Linked DNA regions of Homo sapiens: region 1 is linked to region 2. A link means that fine-mapping ties the variant in region 2 to the expression of a gene that starts in the linked region. Tissue or cell type: visceral fat. Region 2 holds a variant in brackets; the other region holds the start of a gene. All regions are shown on one strand. Distances are between the middles of the regions. Region 1 holds the start of B4GALT2 (beta-1,4-galactosyltransferase 2). Region 2 holds the start of KLF18 (KLF transcription factor 18).

Evidence for each region. PIP is the estimated chance that this variant, and not a neighbour inherited with it, causes the effect.
Region 1: it holds the start of B4GALT2, and the variant in region 2 is the best candidate, but not a certain one, in a credible set for the expression of B4GALT2 in visceral fat (GTEx, PIP 0.79).

What each region holds. Positions count from the first base shown.
Region 1 is chr1:43,977,011-43,982,010 of GRCh38, forward strand. It overlaps B4GALT2 (beta-1,4-galactosyltransferase 2), which reads left to right and starts at 2,200. Exons shown (of 7, transcript NM_003780.5): 1 at 2,200-2,501; 2 at 4,099-4,463; 3 at 4,679-4,914. The coding sequence starts at 4,151. It overlaps ATP6V0B (ATPase H+ transporting V0 subunit b), which reads left to right. Exons shown (of 8, transcript NM_004047.5): 7 at 16-206; 8 at 971-1,285. The coding sequence ends at 997. RefSeq lists enhancers at 902-1,493, 1,494-2,084, 2,085-2,676 and silencers at 2,094-2,193, 2,464-2,573.
Region 2 is chr1:44,140,651-44,146,178 of GRCh38, forward strand. It overlaps KLF18 (KLF transcription factor 18), which reads right to left and starts at 981. Exons shown (of 2, transcript NM_001358438.1): 1 at 1-981. The coding sequence starts at 981. The variant T/C (reference allele first, on the strand shown) is at 2,454.

The sequences.
Region 1 (5,000 bases), 160 kb before region 2:
TCTCTATCCTCCCAGGCTACTCCATGTTTGGGGCTGGCCTCACCGTAGGCCTGTCTAACCTCTTCTGTGGAGTCTGCGTGGGCATCGTGGGCAGTGGGGCTGCCCTGGCCGATGCTCAGAACCCCAGCCTCTTTGTAAAGATTCTCATCGTGGAGATCTTTGGCAGCGCCATTGGCCTCTTTGGGGTCATCGTCGCAATTCTTCAGGTGATGAATCCCCTTGGGAAGCCTCTGTGTCCTTGTCCCCAACCTAGCCTTACCCTCCTTCTGGAGAAGCTGAAGTGCTCTCCTTCTCTACCTATAACTATAGATTCCCCCAAACAGCTTCCACCTCCTCATTTCCATCTTCTGGTTTTCTCCTACAGGGGCTCTCTATTTTTGTCTCTGATTTGGTGTCACTGACAACAGCCCTGTTCTTTTTCCCCCCTTTCTAATGCGTTGTATCTGTATAGCACTTAGTCCTCCCTCTTTCTGTTCTCTCATTTTATCTGCCATGCTTTTCATGTCTCCAGTCTGTATTTGTGATCTAGACTAGAATGGAATTTTGTCTGTCTATATCAGTCTGTCATGGTGTGTTTGACTGTCTCTCGGAGCTATGTGTATCTCCCTCTCACATGCCTGTCAGTAGGACACCATTGTCTAAATTGTGTGTGTCTAGTCTGTCTGACAGTGTGTGAGTTTGTGACTAAGGATCAGCCTGAGGGTCTGAGTGTGACTGTGGGTGCTTGACTGAGTTGATTCTTAGTGACTAGCTTTATCCATATGCCACTTCTCTCCGTCTGTCCCACAGCGTAACTCTGTGGTTGTCTGTCCCTGTCTGCCTTGTCTGTCACAGTGTGTCCATCCTGGTTAGTCATATATCTCTTGTGGTCTGTCCATCCAACCATGTGCTAGATGTCATCTTCTATCATTTGTCACTGCCTTACCTATTCCTCTGTCCCTGCCTGATTTCTCCTGTTCTTTTTTTGCAGACCTCCAGAGTGAAGATGGGTGACTAGATGATATGTGTGGGTGGGGCCGTGCCTCACTTTTATTTATTGCTGGTTTTCCTGGGACAGCTGGAGCTGTGTCCCTTAGCCTTTCAGAGGCTTGGTGTTCAGGGCCCTCCCTGCACTCCCCTCTTGCTGCGTGTTGATTTGGAGGCACTGCAGTCCAGGCCGAGTCCTCAGTGCGGGGAGCAGGCTGCTGCTGCTGACTCTGTGCAGCTGCGCACCTGTGTCCCCCACCTCCACCCTCAACCCATCTTCCTAGTGTTTGTGAAATAAACTTGGTATTTGTCTGGGTCAGTGCAGCTTCTGTTGCCCTCTTGCGTCACCGTTCACAGAGGAAGGGTAAAGAGGCCTGTACGCCTCAGCCTCATGCCAATCCCTTGTCAGCTTTCTGACTGCACACTTCTGATCTGCACAGAGCTTGCTCCTAGGTGGGGAGGCACGGGTGCTGGGTGGACTCTAACCCCCAAACAGACTTGTTTGGGGATGAGGGAGTGTGCAGATAGGGGCCCCTGGGTGTGTTTGTGCCTGTAGTCCTTCTAGGCCCGTTTGCTCAGGGCTCTGACTGACCACCATGCCCGAATTGTCTGACAGCATCTACTTACCTGGTTGTACAGTCGGGCACCATCATCTCCGTCCTTGTGAGGCCTGGAGCCTAGGCAGTGGTCTCTGCCTCCAGTGATGGTCCTGTCCTTCTAGCAGCAGCCCCTCCCAGAAACCTCTACTCTGATCCTTGTTCCCAGGGCCCAGGGCAGCTCCTCCCACCCCATCCAATCTCGTTTTCTCCTTCCCTGACCCTGTTTCCTGTTACCCCAGAAGCCCCAGCCACCTCCAGCCCACGCCTTTAAGGGTCCTGCCCCCTCTCTGCTGGCCGACCTTGAATCTTGGTCCAATTAAAGAGTTGACAAATCCCTAGCCCCGCAGCCTGAGTCCGCCCAACCTCCAGGTCCCCTTCCTGGGGAGTTCGCGCTCCAATGCAATCCCCACTCCCCGCTAAGGGACTCCACGGTCTGCACCCGCTCGCCGGTCCGACCTCTAAGCCCACCCTTTGGACGAGCCTGACCCATTTCCTCCCGCGCTCCCAGGTCCGTGCCTCCTGGGTGCCCGGGTTCGGCCGCCGGCAGGGCGGGCTCGCAGCGGCGCGCGGCGGGTGCGGGCGTGCTGGAGGCGGGGGCCGCGGGGGCGCGCGCGCGGGCGCGCGGGCCGGGCCTGCCCCTCCGAGGCGCCGTAGCGCGGGAGGGAGGCGGCGGCGCTGTGGTCCGTGGGTCCGCCGGTCCGTGGGTCTGCCCGGCCGCCCGGCCCCGCCCTGCCCCCCGGGGCGGCTCGGCTCCATGGCCCGCGGCGGCGGCGGCGGCGGCGGCGGCGGGAGGCGACCCGGGGGCCGCGGTGGCCGCTGACCGGGCGGCGGGAGGCGGCGGGGCCGGGCCATGGGGGACGGAACCGTCCGCAGCCGCCGGAGCCGGGAGCCCTGCCCAAGTCGGAGCGGCGTCCCCTGCTGAGCCCCGAGCGCCGGGTGAGAGGAGGGCGCGCGCGGCCCCCACCCAGGGCCCCGAGATTCCAGACCCAGCCCCGCGAGGGGCACCCCGAGCGCGGCCCCGAGATCCCAACCCAGGAGCCGGTGAGAGAGGCGCCGGCGGCCAGACCCCGGCCTGGCTGCCCCCACCCCGCCCCCACTCCGGCGCCCCTCCTGGGCTTCTCCGCCCGCGTCCAGCCGGCCTCCCTCATTGTCCTCGCTCGCCCCGGCCTCGTGGCGCGGGGAGGCGTTCCATACACGTTTCCCCTTGGCCTTTGCCTCATCCGCTGCCCTCCACCCACTCCCCCTGCCCCCAGGCTCCACACCCACCCGGTCTGTGCGGCCTGCCCGTCCGCGGGTGCCACGTGTTCAGCCTGCCAGCCCCGCCCAAACGCACCCCTCAGCCTGGCCGCCAGCCTGACCCAGAACCCCTGCGCCGGAGGGAGGGTGGGAATGTCTGCACGTGGGTCTGGGTGTGAGCTGTCTGAGAGTCTGGATGTATGGCTGTGGAAGTCCAGGAGCAGTGGCCTTGTTTGTGAGTGTGGGACTTAGTGTGTTACTGTCACCCGGGTGTGTCTGTGACTGTAGTTCTCTGTGTGTCTGAGTGTGGGTGACCAGCTGGGACCAGGGTGTCCCTGTGATTCTGTGTGCCTGTGAGACTCACCCTGCTCCCTGAAGCACTGCCAGAAGTGGCTGCCGCTCTCTTGGAACCACAGCTGGAGCCATCGCCCAGGCAAGACCCCCTTCCTGCCATGCCCAGTGCTGTGCCCATCTCCAGGCCCAAGCATCCCGTTCCGGGAATCAGAACCAGCTGTGCTGGGCAGGACCCAGAGTCTTGGTCCCAGTCCCAAGGGGCTGGCTTTGAGGTCTTAAGTGAGGGGTGTCCCCTGCCTTGCCCCGTATTTTGACGTTTTGCTCCAGTGGGAAGGGATTCTGTAAACATCCAGTCTGTATTTGGGCCCCCCGGATGCTGAGGGCAACTTCCCAGCCTGGTCCCAGTTGGCCTGGCCTGCTTGTCGCTGGGATCTGAATGACCAAACCACTTCCCACCATGGCTCCTGGAAGGACTAAATGAAGTCATGAGTATAAAGTGCTCCTGCATGGTAGGTGCACAGTATTCCGTCTCTTCCCTCTTCCCCAAGCCATGAGTTCTGGGTTAAGGATGCTGCCATGTGAGGTGTCTGTTCTCAGGGGCACAGGGGCACATGGGGGTCTATAGGTAAACATGTCTCCATGCTTAGGTACAAACCAGTGTGGTTAGAGTTCACGTGTCTGTGTTCCTGGGAATGCGTGAGTGTGTGTGTAGAGTTGTGCAATAAGGGTGAGTGCCTGAGTGTGTGTGTCAGTGAGGTGGAGGAAGGTAAATGTATGTGGCTTAGTAGTGGGGTGTGCTTGAGGATGTGAGTACTGAGTTGCCGGGAACTGTGCCTGGGTGTCTGTTTGGAGGTAAATTCTTGAGTCTGTGAGTGTGAAAGGGTATGAGCAGGTCAGTGTGAGGTGTGGCCCACGAGTGTGAGCAGCTGAGTGGGAGGTAGGTGGGCAGCCTTGCCTGTCCTGCCCTGACCTGCTGGATCTGTTTCCCTCCCACCCTGCTCAGGCCAGCAGCCGGATGCCCGGGCCCACTGGGCGGGCCAGTGGCCGCCTGCGGGATGAGCAGACTGCTGGGGGGGACGCTGGAGCGCGTCTGCAAGGCTGTGCTCCTTCTCTGCCTGCTGCACTTCCTCGTGGCCGTCATCCTCTACTTTGACGTCTACGCCCAGCACCTGGCCTTCTTCAGCCGCTTCAGTGCCCGAGGCCCTGCCCATGCCCTCCACCCAGCTGCTAGCAGCAGCAGCAGCAGCAGCAACTGCTCCCGGCCCAACGCCACCGCCTCTAGCTCCGGGCTCCCTGAGGTCCCCAGTGCCCTGCCCGGTCCCACGGCTCCCACGCTGCCACCCTGTCCTGACTCGCCACCTGGTCTTGGTGAGCCTGGAGGGTAGGGCCTGCCTGTGGGGAAACAGGGTTTTATTGGTTTGACTAGAGAAATGGCATCTGGACCCAGGGGTGTGCCAGGGGTCCAGGTCTGTTGTAAGAGGGCTATTCTTGGGGTTCCCTAGCCCACCCCCAGGCTGAGGGTGGGGGCTGGTATCTGTGGATTCTGGCCAATGCCCTGATTCCTGACACTGTCCTGTCTGCAGTGGGCAGACTGCTGATCGAGTTCACCTCACCCATGCCCCTGGAGCGGGTGCAGAGGGAGAACCCAGGCGTGCTCATGGGCGGCCGATACACACCGCCCGACTGCACCCCAGCCCAGACGGTGGCGGTCATCATCCCCTTTAGACACCGGGAACACCACCTGCGCTACTGGCTCCACTATCTACACCCCATCTTGAGGCGGCAGCGGCTGCGCTACGGCGTCTATGTCATCAACCAGGTGCCCATGCGGGGGTCCATGTGCCTGTTGGTGTATATATGTGGGTTGGGGGCGTTTGTGGGTCCTTGTCTGCCCGTGTGGATATG
Region 2 (5,528 bases):
ACCAGTGGAGGTCGTCATCTGCCCTCCACAGAGGGCTTGGTTACCAGTGGAGGTCATCACTTGCTCCCCACAGAGGGTCTGGTTACTAGTGGAGGTTGTCATCTGCTCTCCACAGAGGGTCTGGTTACTAGCGGAGGTCGTCATCTGCCCCCCATAGAGGGCCTGGTTACCAGTGGAGGTTGTCATCTGCTCTCCACAGAGGGTCTGGTTACCAGTGGAGGTCGTCATCTGTCTCCCGTAGAAGGCCTGGTTACCACTGGAGGTCGTCATCTGCTCCCCACAGAGGGTCTGGTTATCAATGGAAGTCATCATTTGCCCTCCATAGAGGTCTAGACTGGTTGTCATTTGGCCCCCAGAGAGGGTCTCATCGCTACCGGAAGTCACTGTATGACCATCAGTGAGGGTCTGGTCACTACTGAAGGTCACCTGGTCCCCACAGAGAGTCTGGTTATCACTGAGGGTCTTCATCTGATCTCCAAGCAGGGCTGGTATCTGACTCTCATTGAGGGTCTGGTCACTGCTTGGGGTGTTCAGCTGGCTACTTTCATTGGAGATTGTCATGTTGCTTGCAGTGATGGTTGTCTTCTGGCAATCAGTGGGTGATGACTTTGGGGTGACAGTAACATCTGTCATCTGGGAGCCTGCTGTGTGTTTTACCTGATCAAAGGAAGTCACTTTCTGGCCCATGGAATAAGTCTCACTTAGGTCTTCAAGGGCTTTAAGAGGGTGCATTGTTAAGTCCTGGGTGAGAACTGTCCCAGGGATGTTAGTGCATGCAGAAGTCATCATTGTGGACCCCAAGGGAGGCATCGTCTTGCTCTGGGTTGACTCATGTTGGCTCTCCTCAGCATGGGCAGTCAGAGGCATACAGTTCTGTGGTTCTGGTGCATCTGGGGTTTCTGCCTGTTCTGTATGCCGCTCAGAGAGATGCTGGAAAAATTTCTCAATTTCCTCAATTGCCTGGAGAAGACTGGAATCCATCTCTTTGATGTTGCCTGATGACTGAACTAGATCTTTAGTTATGGGATCCTGCAAAAAAATTGATAGGTCAGGGGTTCATCCCAGCTCAAATTCCAATCCCCACATACCCTCCTTCTCCATCCCTGTTGACCCTATCCTAATCCAGCCCACCATCATCTCTTGCCTAGAAGCCTGTAGTTGCCTTTCAACTGACTCTGGAGTTAACTTCATCCAGTGTCCCCTCCACACACAGAGTAACATTTTAAAAGTGCAAACATTTCTCAAGTGCAAACTTTTACTAAGCTACTCCTATCTACCAATGGAGATGAGAGTCTAGATGGATGTTGTGAATCTCCTATCATCCTCTGAAGAGATCTCACCCCAGAGGCTTTTCCAAAGTCTCCTCTCCAGACATCTTACCGGAGATTCAGCTGATTAAATTTTCAAATAAATTATCTCATTTCATTTCCACCATGACCCCAGAAAATAAGGGTCATAATTAATCCCATTTTAAGGAAAATAGAAGTCCAGGGAGGTAAATTGACTTGGCCCAGGTGGAAGACTCTTAATTTGTACTGGACCTATCTGGCTGTGGGTCCTTACAGTCCCCTAGATAAATGGGATATTTCTCCCAGAGATCTCACTGGGGGCACCCACTGATTCTAGCCTCCTGAGAACCATCCTGGAAACCACCAGCTTCTAGGAACCATTCTACTATGGACTGAATGTTTGTGTTTCTCCAAATTTCATATGCTAAAACTGAATTTCCAGTGTGATTGTATTAGAAGGTAGCGCCTTTGGGAGATGATTAGGTCATGGAGACAGAACCTTCAAGAATGAGATGAGTGTTCTTCTAAGGGGCTGAGGGTCAGAGTTCTTTACTTCTACCAAGTGAGGACACAGCTAAAAGGTGCCATCTATGAATCAGAAAGTATGCCCTTACCAGACACCGAATCTACCAGCTCCTGGACAGAACAGACTAAGATACATTCCAAGAAGCAGTTTCTTTGGAGACAGAGGCGTAACTGTGCATATGGACAAGGTTTATATTTCTGTTCAAAGTGGCCATCCATATGCTTCTAGGCTTCCTTTGTCTCTGGTATCAAGTGTATGTATGTATGTATGTATGTACTTATTTATTTATTTATTTATTATTTTCTCTTTTTTCTCTGCCCCATATGATCTGCAAGAAAAGTGTCAAGTTTATAATGAGCTCCCCAAAGCCACCATCTGGGTAGCCTCACATCTTTTTCATCCCCTGTGCCTCTTCCCTGCTTTTGTCCTACTCTAGCCAGATCAGTCTACTCAGTTTTGCCATGTTCCTATCCAATCCATTGCTCAGTCTGCCTTATCCAGCCAAATTATCTTATCTAATACGTTCTCCTTTCCCATCTCTGCCATCAAAGTCTGGTCCCTCCTGCCTTGTCCTGACTCTCAGAATAGAGAAATACCATAATTCCCCCAGGCTGTATTCAAAATGTGTGACAGGACTG[T/C]CATTGAATATGGTGGACTGAGGAGACCCTGAAGTCCTTCCCTTCTATACCAAATCATAGAAATGATAGATGGCTTTAAATATATAGAAATATATATATATATATAATATATGTACATATATTACATATATTTAAAGAAAAATTTTAAAACCCAAAGAATATACATATATAACATATATCTATTTATGATTGGAAATAAGTGGAATTTCCCAAGAACTAGAAGGAGGTACCCTTAAAAGAAGGGAGATAATTGAAGCCACAGTGGAAGCAGAAGCCACTTTCACTTGGAGGTCTGGGCTGATGCCACTTCTTGTGGTGACACCCTACCAAGAGGAGCTCTCAAAACCTAGGAATTCTTTTTATTTTTATTTTCAGAGATGGATTCTCTCCAAGTTACCCCGGCTGGATTTGAACTACTGGGCTCAAGCGATCTTCCTGTCTCAGACTCCCTAGTACGTGGGACTACAGGTGCTTGCCACCACATCCACCTCTAAATCCATAATAGAAATCCATAATAGAAGTAAAACTGGAAGGCTGCGCATGGTGACTCACACCTGTAATCCCAGCACTTTGGGAGGCCGAGGTGGGTGGATCATGAGGCCAGGAGTTCAAGACCAGCCTGGCCAAGATGGGAAACCCTGTCCCTACTAAAATTACAAAAATTAGCTGGGCTTGGTGGTGAGCACCTGTAATCCCAGCTACTCGGGAGGCTGAGGCAGGAGAATCGCTTGAACCTGGGAGGTGGACTCCAGCCTGGGCGACCGAGTGAGATGCCATCTCAAAAAAAAAAAAAAGAAGTAAAACTGGAAAGTTCACAAATTTGTGGAAATGAAAGAATATACTCTTAAGCAAACAATGGATCAAAGAAGAAATCACAAGAGAAGTTATAATGAACACAAAAACACAATAGACCAAAATTTATGGGATGTAGTAAAAGCAATGCTAGAATAGAAGCTATAAACACTTACATTTAAAAAAACAAGAAATAGCTCAAATCAGTAACCTAACTTTACAATTTACGGAACTAGAAAAAGAACTAAACTTAAAGTTTGCAGAAGGAAGAAAATGATAAAGATTAGAACAGGCCAGGCACAGTGGGTCAGGCCTGTCATCCCAGCATGTTGGAAGGCCAAGGTGGGAGGATCCCTTCACCCAGGAGTTCTAGACTAACCTGGGCAATATAGTGAGATCCAGCTCCTACAAATTTTTTTTTTTTTTAATTAGCTGAGTGTGGTGGCACATACCTGTAGTCCCAGCTACTTGGAATGATGAGGCAGGAGGATCACGTGAGCCCAGGAGTCGGAGGCTACAGTGAGCTGTTATTGTGCCACTGCACTCCAGCCTGGGTGACAAAGCAAGACCCCACCTGTAAAAAAACAAAACAAAAAAGAATAGAGCAGAGATAAATGAAATGGAAATTTTAAAAAATACAGAAAAATTAATGAAACAAAAAATCGATCTTTGAAAAGATCAGCAAAATTGACAAACCTTTAAGCTAGATGGACTAAGAAAAAGAGACTCAAATTACTAAAATCAGAAAGAAAAGTGGGGACATTACTACTACTTCTACACCAATAGAAAGGATTTTAAGACAGGACTATGGACAGTTTGTACACCAACAAATTGGATAACCTAGATAAAATGAAGAAATTCATAGAAACACAAAACCTATCAAGACTGAATCAGGAAGAAAGAAAATCTGAAGAGACCTATAACTAATGAGACTGAATCAGTAATCATTATCTCCTAACGAAAAAAAAGCTGTGGACCTGATAGTTTCACTGGTCAATTCTACCAAATTTTAAAGAACTAATATCAATCCTTCAAACTTCTACAAAATATTGAAGAGGAGAGAATACTTCCTAACTTACTCTACGAGCCCAGCATATACCCAATGTCAAAGCCAGATGTGATGCTACAAGAAAAGAAAACTACGGACTCATATCCCTTAAGAACATTGATGCAAAAATCCCAAAAAAGTACTGGTAAACCCAATTCATCAGCATATTACAAGGATTATACAACAAGACCAAATGGGATTTACTCCCAGAATGCAAGGATGGTTCAACATATGAAAATCTATTTTCAATATATTTATTGAAGAAAATATAGTTATAAGTGGACCTATGCAGTTCAAACCTGTGTTGTTCAAGGGTCAAATGTATATACAAACAATGGAATATATAACTGAATATCCAGCCTTAAAATGGAAGGATAGTCTGACACATGCTACAACATGGATGAACTTTGAGGACATTATGCTAAGTGAAATAATCCAGCCACAAAAAAGTGACTCACATAAAAAGTCATGTGATTCCACTTATATGAAGTACCTAAGAGTAATCAAAATCAGAGACAGACAGATGGTTGGGGGGAAAAGGGGGAGGGGGAATGAGGAGTTAACTGTTTAACTGGTACAGTTTCACTTTTATAAGATGAAAGAGTTCTGGAGATGGATGGTGGTGATGGTTGCATAATACTATGACTGTATCTAAATACCACCACTGATCTGTAAACTTAAAAATGACTAAGATGGTAATTTTATATTACATATATTTGAAGATCATACAAATAACTGAGAAAAATTCAAAAAAAAAATTCCAAACAGGAAATCTTTGAAATGATGTCCTCTGAGATTAAAATCAATCTCTAGCTATCACAGCACCTCTAGCTCTAGGTACTCAGAGGCTGTGGGACGAGGTTCCCTTGAGCCCAGCAGTTTGAAGCCAGCTTGGGCAACATAGCAAGAACCCCCTCCTCTCTAAAAAATAAATACATAAAATTAAACTTTAAAAATCAATCTCTAATAGCATCTTACTCTTACACTTAGTTTCCCACCATTTCTACTCATGTAAAAGCTTAACTCCTGTCTACCCCCTCTCCCCACCACTGGACTAGAAGCTCCTCTGAGCAGACAGAACTCTATTTCGTTCTGAGCAAGGCCTGATGGATCCCACTGGGAACCTTAGAAAACAGGAACCCAGTGAGGGACTGATTCCCACTCCACCTGCTCTAGGTCTGCTTCTGGTCCCTAAAGTTTCTGGCCCTTGGAAAAACAGAAGGATTTCAACCCCA